Regions from separate parts of the Homo sapiens genome. Here region 1 is linked to region 2. The links come from fine-mapping of genetic effects on gene expression. A gene starts in region 2. The other region holds a variant in brackets. All regions are shown on one strand. Distances are from middle to middle. Region 1 has its middle 58 kb from the start of RNF19A. Region 2 holds the start of RNF19A (ring finger protein 19A, RBR E3 ubiquitin protein ligase).

Region 1 (4,393 bases), 59 kb before region 2:
GAAAGTAGTAAGTGAAAGAAGTGGGACACAAAAGGCCACATTTTATTATTCCATTTATGTGAAATGTCTGGAATGGACAAAGCCATAGAGAGAGTAAATTAGTAGATGCCAGGGACTGAGAGGAAGGGGAAGTGGGAACTGACTACTAATGGGTAAAGGGTTCTTTCTGGGGTGATGAAAATGTTCTGGAGTCAGATATTAGTAACAGTTGTACGACCTTGTAAAAACACTGAATCGTACACTTTAAAATGTGAATTATGCGAACTGCATCTCAATTGTGAAAAATGAAGTGGGGTGGGGGGAAGCAAATCACCCAAGGTAGTGAATAACTTAGAGGCAAACTCTGGGGTTTTCCAATCAATCCTGATAAGGCCACCTACTTGAGTTTTTCAAGAACCTGCCAGGAGGAATAAAAACTGAGGAAGACTGAAAGACTACCTCCACCCCATGACTGGAAACAAAGTAAAGATGTCCTCTTACCCTTCCTATTTAACATTGTACTGGAGGTTGAAACCAGTGCAATAAGGGGTTAAAATGTTATAAAAGGCATCCAGATTGGAAAAGAAGAAGTAACCTTTCTTTATTTGCAGACACAATTATCTATGTAGAAAAGCCAATAGAGGCTGGGTACGGTGGCTCAAACCTGTAATCCCAGCACTTTGGGTGGCCGAGGCAGGCGGATCATCTGAGGTCAGGAATTCAAGATCAGCCTGGCCAACATGGTGAAACTCTGTCTTTATTTAAAAAGAAAACAAACAAACAAAAAAACCCCACAAAAATCAGCTAGGTGTGGTGGTGCACACCTGTAATCCTAGCTACTCTGGAGGCTAAGGCAGGAGAACTGCTTGAACCCAGGAGGCGGAAGTTGCAGTGATCTGAGATCAAGCCACTGCACTGCAGCCTGGGCGACAGAGCGAGGCTCCGACTTAAAAAAGAAAAAAAAGTCTATAGAATCTACAAAAAAACTACTAAAATTAATGTGATTTACAAGGTCGTAGGATTCAAGATCAATATACAAAAATCTAATTTCTATATACTCGTAATGAATGTAATCATAAATTGATATTTTTAAGAGATCTGTACACTGAAAACTACAAAGCATTGTTGAAATTAAAAAACTAAAAGATAGATATACTGTATTCATGAATAGGAAGACTTGATATTGTTAAGATGCCAGTTTTCCTCATATTGATAAATAGGTATCAGTGGTGATTCAGTCAAAATCCCAGCAGACTTTTTGGTAGAAATCTAGAAATGGATTCTAGTGTAAACACAGTATTCAAATCACTGGGAAATTTGGAAAGATTATTTTAAAAATAGTGCCATCACAAATGGCTTTCTATCTGGAAGAAAGTAAAACTGGACCTTTATATTACACTAAATGCTAAGATAAATTGAAGATAGATTTTATAAAATATGAAAAATTTAAAATCTCACTACAAACTACCAAAAGAGACTACAAGTACAATTTAGAAAGAGAGGAGAGCTTAATCATGACCAGAAGGTCTAAAATATTACAATTAAAGACACACAACAGGTTTCATATTGCAGAAAAAAAATGTAAAGAGTATGTGGAAATGCTGAAATATCTGCAACTTTTCTGTAAATCTAAAAATATTCAAAAATTAAAAGTTTACTTAAGGATAAAATAGAATGCACACACAATGCTAATAAAAGTCGAATGACATATTTGGAGAAAAATACAAGAGTCAAACTATTAACAGCTATAGTATAAAAAATATATTTATTTTCATTTTTTTAAATTTATTTTTCTGAGACAGAGTCTTGCTCTGTTGCCCAGGCTGGAGTGCAGTGGCGTGATCTCAGCTCACTGTAACCTCTGCCTCCCGGGTTCAAGCTATTCTCCTGCCTCAGCCTCTCAAGTAGCTGGGATTATAGGTGTGAGCCACCGCACCCGGCCCTATTTTCATTTTTATTTATTAACAGAGATGGGGTTTTGCTATGTTGCCCAGGCTAGTCTTGAACTCCTGGCCTCAAGCAATCCTCCTGCCTCAGCCTCCCAAAGTGAGCCACTACACCTGGCCAAAATACCTTTCAAACTGACAAGAAAACAATAAAAAAAAAAAAATAGGCAAAGGATATAAGAGCCAATTTAGAGAACACCAAACTCAAATACCATCTTCCAGCCCCTAGGCCAAAAAAAAAAAACAAAAAAAAACAAAAAAAAAAACACAAAAAGATGTACACATTTACTAGCCAGGAAAATGTAACATTAGATAATAGATAATACTTTACACCAAACAGTTTAAAAGTTTGTAAAGCTCTAATACCTATTGTTAGTAGAATGCAGGGAAAAGGGAACTCATGTATTGTTAGCAAATTGTAAATTGTGACAGCCTTTTTTGGGAGACAATCTGGTAAACCTTTTAAAAATTCAATAGACATGGACTTTAACCTAGCCATTTGATTTCCTTGAATTTATCTCCCATACTTAGAAGTACCAGAATATAAGGACGTAATTATTAGAATTTTTTTGCAGTGTTTTGTATTGAGGAAAGAAACAACAAATAACAAAGTGAA[TG/T]CTCATCAATATGAGAATGTCTGAATAACTGCAGCACATCTATACTACAGAATTCTTATGCAGCCATTAAAAAGAATGCGTTGGAGTTATACAGTTGACTTGGACAGATTTCCCAAAGATATTACTGAGAAAAAATCAAGAAAATTAATGTATATATGCATTGTGTGTGACTATGAACATGGAGAAAACTGGCATCACACACATTTTGTCATTTGCACTGGTTATGGGGGAAGATAATGAGGGAAGGAGGCAGAGAAGAGAAGGGGAGAACAAAACACAAAAAGAAGGCAAGGAAAAAAGGATGGGGAAATAATTTGTGCACATTTTAATTAAGCTTTCAATAGAAAGTCTCTAGAACATCAGTTCATGATACCTCTAAGGCAACTGTGATTTCCTTATCTAGTTGAAAGTATTACATTTTCTTTAAACAAGCAAAAAAGCAACAAAAAGCCCCCAAAAGCAAAATTAAAATGCCTTGGCTATATTAACCCTGAAAATTAGGTCCAATGGCTGTCATACATGATAGAATATTTGTAAACTAATGTATTTGGTATAAAACCTTGTTAAAAGTTAACTGTCTTTTCAGCCACTGTATTGCTTCAAACAACTTATTTTACTGTACAATATTATGAAGTGACTGGTTATCAACTCTGAATTGAGTCCAGAAACATCCTCATTCCCTTTGCTCAGTTGTTCTTCTGTCCCATCAGAATTTCCTCTTCATATATATAAATACTATAAGTATAGGAAAAATAAAAGGAAAGACAAGGTCCCTGCCCTCATGAGACTAGAGTTCCTTTAAGATTTGTTCTCCTAATATCTTGAATACAGAATTAAGAATCTGGAGGTATTAATACCTGGAACACATGGTGTTATGTATGTCTATATTTTACCTCCATGCAGGACAAAAAGTGACAGAAATATGTGATCCAACGCTATTTAGGCAAAAGGCTGGAAAGAAAAAAAAAAAAAAAAGCAAAAGCAAGACTATCTTGTCACCAGCCAGCCCACACATTCTAGAATTAGTCAACTCTTATAGAGCAAAGAGACTGCCTTATCTTACTGCTCATATAGATGAAAATGAGCTGCTTACTAACCCTGAAAACCTGGCTCTCTCTTGTACTAAAAAACAATTCAAGTGCAGACAGCCTTAATAGCAATTTCTACCAAACATTCAAGGAAGACATCATTCCAATCTTACATACTCTGATCACTGAAGTTTGCCCCAGGTTAACATTTGAAGAATCAAATTCACTACATTAACATGTTAATCACAATTATATGGCAGATGCTCCCCCCACCAAATAAGCAGCCAATAAAATTCAACGTATTTTCAAAGGTAAAAACTCTTGGCAAACTAGGAGTTAGAAGATAATTTACAAAATTCAATAAAGGATATCCTATAAATATATCTGTGGCAAATAATAGCTGAAATGATGAAAGGTTTCCCTTTGAGGTTATCAACAAATCAACAATGCCCCCTATAACCACCGCTATTCAGAAGTATACACTAGAAGTCCCAGCCAGTGCAAAAGGCCAGAAAAATAAATAAATGATGCAATGATCTAAGAGAAAAAAACCAAAACAATGGGAATCCCACCTCTACCACTTAGCAGCTGTGCAACTCCAGGCAAATTACTTAATATCTCTGTGCCTCAGTTACCCCCATCTGTAATGAAGATAGTAATACCTCCTTCACAGAGTTGTTCTGAGGAATAAGTATTTTATTTTGAACCAACTCTAATGATAATTAAGACTTTAGTATATAATTTGATATACAATTACCTTTTGCATCTTTCTAAATTATATGACCCCTATTCACTGTTCAAGGTAAACCTAATATTACTTTTT
Region 2 (4,393 bases):
AAATTTCCAGTGGCCACTATTTGGTACTAAGAATTGGGTTGTGCTTCAACTCCTAAAATGATGCTGCAGTTTTAAAAATTAATCTTACTGGAATCTCCTGGAAGCTAAGATAGTGAAAAAAATACACTAACATTAGTTGCCAACTGTAATTTTTTCCTCAAAGACACCTTGCGATGACATTAAAATATTTTCCATGGACACGTAAAATTTAAACTTCAGTTAAATTTTATACAGTAATTTAAAAAAAGAGAACATTAAGCAGGGCATTAAACTAACAAATTTTAAAAGTGTTTTTTTAGCATAATTTGGTTTATTAAGTCCCAAGACTTAATTCTAAATTTTTACCATGAAACTGTAACAAGGAAAGAACATTTGAAAATACGATCATCGCCATTTTCTAAATAGAGAAGTATTTACATTTTAACTCAATTCAGATAGTTCAGTCAGTGTTAAAGAAGCAAAAACAGGCAAACAGGGTAATGGCTTGCATTATAAACAGAAGTGGTAAAATGTGTATTAAGACGGGTAATGGCAAAACTGAAAATAAAACTTAAGGCAAACCGTCAGACTTCAAACAACCAAAACTCAATGAATCTAGGTTAAAATAAGAAAAGATATTTTAAAAAAATGAAAAGAACCATGTTCTTTAAAAAAAAAAAATGTGGAATGTAAAGATCACAATTTAAGACAACCGATCAAAGGAAAGGGCTGCTTTAAGCCTCTACTGTTTACTAACACTTAAAATTAGCATTTCTAGCCAACATCTAGGTTTGAAAATTGCAACGGCACTTAAACGCCGTCTTTTCTAACGTCACCCCAACAGAACATTCTGCAACACTGTGGACAGTAAACATTAAGCAGAGTAAAGCATCGTTCGTGTATTTATATCTCCAAGGGTCAATGGGAAAAAATTAAACGTTTCTCTCTCCCATATATAGCCTTAACCACTCTCTTCCCTCTTTTTATTTACTGCCCTTGTCGCGGGGTTAATGAACCCTAAACTTCTTTTTCTTCTTCCCATTAATGGAAATGGGAAAAAAAGAGCAACTGCAGAGTGGAACCCAGATAAGAAAAACTGAAAATTCAAAGTAGTAGTATTACTTGCCGGGCGAGGGCTGGGAACACCCTAAAGGCTTAGCACGGGGAGACAATCCCGGAAGACCCCCGTTAACACATACTTCACCCCAAGGCTACACCATTTTGGTGTGATGTGTAATTTTTGCTTTTGAAGGAGGTGGTAGCAGTCCCGGACTAACCTTCCTCCGAACACAGCTCCCCTCCCTAAGGCCCCAGGCAGCACGGCTTGCGGGGCGATGTCCCGGCTCCAAATTTGCAGCGAGGCCCGGAAATCGGTCCCGTTAGAGCCGATTTCACCCGTCAGGAATGCGTTCCGCCCCCGCCGCCTCCCCGCGGCAACCGCCCTTGGGTCTCCCCCGCTTTAGGGGCAGGAGACAGCTCGAGGGGAGCGCCGCCTCGGCCCGTCATAATATCGCCGGGCCGGCCGCCGGCCGCACAGGCACCAGGAGGACAGGGCTTGGGGCGGATCCCACGCTCCACCTCGGCCCCCGCGGCCCGGGAGACGCCCGCGCCTGGGCCGGGTAGGGGACCCGGAGCTGACCGAGGCCTGACCCCCTAAGCCGGCCACGGCCCCGAGCCCACGCTGGACACTGGAGGAGACGCCTTTCCCACCGGACTTCCGAATCCATTTCTGTCCCGGGCAGGGGCGCTAGGGCTGCGGCCCGGCCAGAGCTCCCTGGGTCGTAAGCGAGAGCCGCCCCTTCTCTCCCGCTCCGGGGCGCAAGCTCCTCCGGGTGCCCGCCCGTACCTTTAACTCCTCAGAGCGGCGGCAGCGCAGGGTGGCGGGCGAGTAGGCCCATCTCCCAGCAGCGGCGACAGCAGCCTGAGGAAGCGCGGGGGAGGGTCCCTCCGATGCGCCGAGGCGCCTCTCAACCGGGGCGGAGACGACGGAGGGGAGGAGTCCCGACGGCCGCTTTCCCGAACTCCTCCTCCGCAGTTGTGGCTCGACGGCTGCTCCCGGGAACCAGCGCCGCAACTACCACCTCCCCCTCCCGCAGCCCCCGCTTTCCCCTCCTCCTCCTCCCACTTCTTCCTCCCGCCCCCGGCCGCCCCGCCCCAGCGCGCCGCCCGCGTGCTGTGCGTCATGGCGTCACGCCCACCGGGCCCGCTGCGGGCGGCTCTGGACGCGGCTGTTCCCTTGCGCACGTTCGTTCCGCGCCCGCGCAGGAGCCGCCCCGCTGCACCCGGGTGGCCCCGACTGCGGCCCCCACGCCTGTCCCTGGCGGAGGGGACTTCGCCTCGAGCGCGCCGGGCAGTGGGGCCGGTGTCTCCCTGGCCGGTTCTCCGTGGCCCAGAGAGCGTCTCCTCCAAGGACAGGTCGGGGTGGCTGGAGCTGCGCCCGGTTGAAGGGAGTTGCCAGACTCGGCGACTCTGGCTCTTGGCAGTTTGCCCGGCATTATTCATTCCTTTGTGTTCTCAGGGTTCACCTGCTAGATTGGCAGGCCGAGGGAGAGAAGTGCCGGGATGTTGCAGCTCTCGGCGAGGAAATGTCCTTTCCCAGAGGACGGCAGCACCCTGTGCGTCTGCAGCCGCCCTCTTAGTGCACCTGTCTTTGCAGAGGCTGTTAGGAACAGTACTTAGCCACAATAGCAAGCCTACGTGAGGGTTTGGAGAGTATCTTCCATTCATCTCTTTTATTTCATTTTTTTTTTACTATTTTGCAGTCAAGTAATCAGAATTCCTATTTCATCTCTAATACATTCCTAATTACTTTAATCCAGCTTTATTTGTTCCTTCGTCTCATATCTTTTCAGCCAGTCATATCCCCTTTGAATGTTTCAATCTACACTAGTCTTGGTATTCTTAGTTGAATAAACAAATTCCGTCTGGGCCTGGTGCATTTCCTCCTGGTTTATTCTCTTCAAGATTTAGATCACTCTAACATAGAATACTGAGAAACGAATGTGATAGAGGCTGGACAGAATGTCCATTTGCCATCTGTTACTTAACTAAATATATCACTCTCCCAGTCCTTGTTTAGTGTGTCTGTGTAATTTAAATTAGAAACAAACCAAGGAGCCATGGTCTTTCCGAATGTACTTGGTATCTTTGGTAACCCAGTAAATGTTTACCAATTAGAAAATTGAACAAGCTAGGCAGTTTAGGTTTAAGTGTCTTTGGCCTCGAATCTTAAAGGAAGTAATTATGGGTATGTTTATTTTCATTTATGGGAAGTTTTAAAGCTGTTATACCTTTAAATGCTACTTGAAGGCTGCCAGCGACTTTACATATGGGATGCTTTAAGCCTACAGATAGCACAAGAATAGTAAGTTAAGTACCCATATATAATATCCTTCTTGAAAATATATCAATATGTTGGCCGGAATTGGTGGCTCACGCCTGTAATCCTAGCACTTTGGGAGGCCGAGGCGGGCGGATCACGAGGTCAGGAGATCGAGACCATCCTGGCTAACATAGTGAAACCCCGTCTCTACTAAAAATACAAAAAATTAGCTGGGCGTGGTGGCGGGCGCCTGTAGTCCCAGCTACTCGGGAGGCTGAGGCAGGAGGATGGCGTGAACCCGGGCGGCGGAGCTTGTAGTGAGCAGAGATCTCGCCACTGCACTCCAGCCTGGGCGACAGAGCGAGACTCCGTCTCAAAAAAAAAAAAAAAAAAAAAAGAAAAGAAAATAGATCAACATGTTAAACAACATTTCAGCACAGATGGGGCACTGGCTTGAAAGGGGATTTTGAATAAAGAAGCTGTGCGGAATGAAAATGGTCTTACACTCTGTACAACGGTAATATTTTCCAGAGATGCTGCTTCTGGCTTTCTTGTCTTCCTAAAAATTAGAAGGACTTTCTATTCTTCACTAGGCCAAATAAATCTATTAAAAAACAAATACCTATTGAACATCCCCAACTTGAATTCCTAGAGGCACCTCAGATTCAGGCTGTCCAAGATGTAGTTTGTTCTTTCCTCAAAGCATGCTTCTTTCATTCACCCAGACACAAGCCAGAAACCTAGGATTGTTCCCAGGCCCCATTCTTTTTGTCCCTTCCAATTCATAACTAACCACCAAGTCCTGTTTATTATACCCCGGAAATATCCCTGTGCTCTCTGTTCTATATCTCCCTCTGCTTTTAGAGCAGTGTTTTCAAATTTGGCTGCATATTCTTATGTCCACGTTGCACCCAACAATTAAATCAGAATCACTGAGGGTGGTGCTCAGGCATCAGTAGTTTTTAAAACTCCCCAAGTGTGCTGGGCACGGTGGCACACACCTGTAGTCCTAGCACTTTGAGAAGCAGAGGTGGTTGGATCACTTGAGTCCAGGAGTTCAAGACCAGCCTGAGCAAGATGGCGAAAATACAA

What was found. PIP is the estimated chance that this variant, and not a neighbour inherited with it, causes the effect. A credible set is the group of variants that fine-mapping cannot tell apart.
Region 1: its variant is the best candidate, but not a certain one, in a credible set for the expression of RNF19A in tibial nerve (GTEx, PIP 0.62).

What each region holds. Positions count from the first base shown.
Region 1 is chr8:100,249,480-100,253,872 of GRCh38, forward strand. No RefSeq gene overlaps it. Among named protein-coding and RNA genes, the nearest start is that of RNF19A, 58 kb to the right of the region's middle. The variant TG/T (reference allele first, on the strand shown) is at 2,542.
Region 2 is chr8:100,308,042-100,312,434 of GRCh38, forward strand. It overlaps RNF19A (ring finger protein 19A, RBR E3 ubiquitin protein ligase), which reads right to left and starts at 1,912. Exons shown (of 10, transcript NM_183419.4): 1 at 1,826-1,912. RefSeq lists silencers at 1,145-1,194, 1,465-1,514, 1,565-1,654, 2,015-2,404, 2,110-2,269.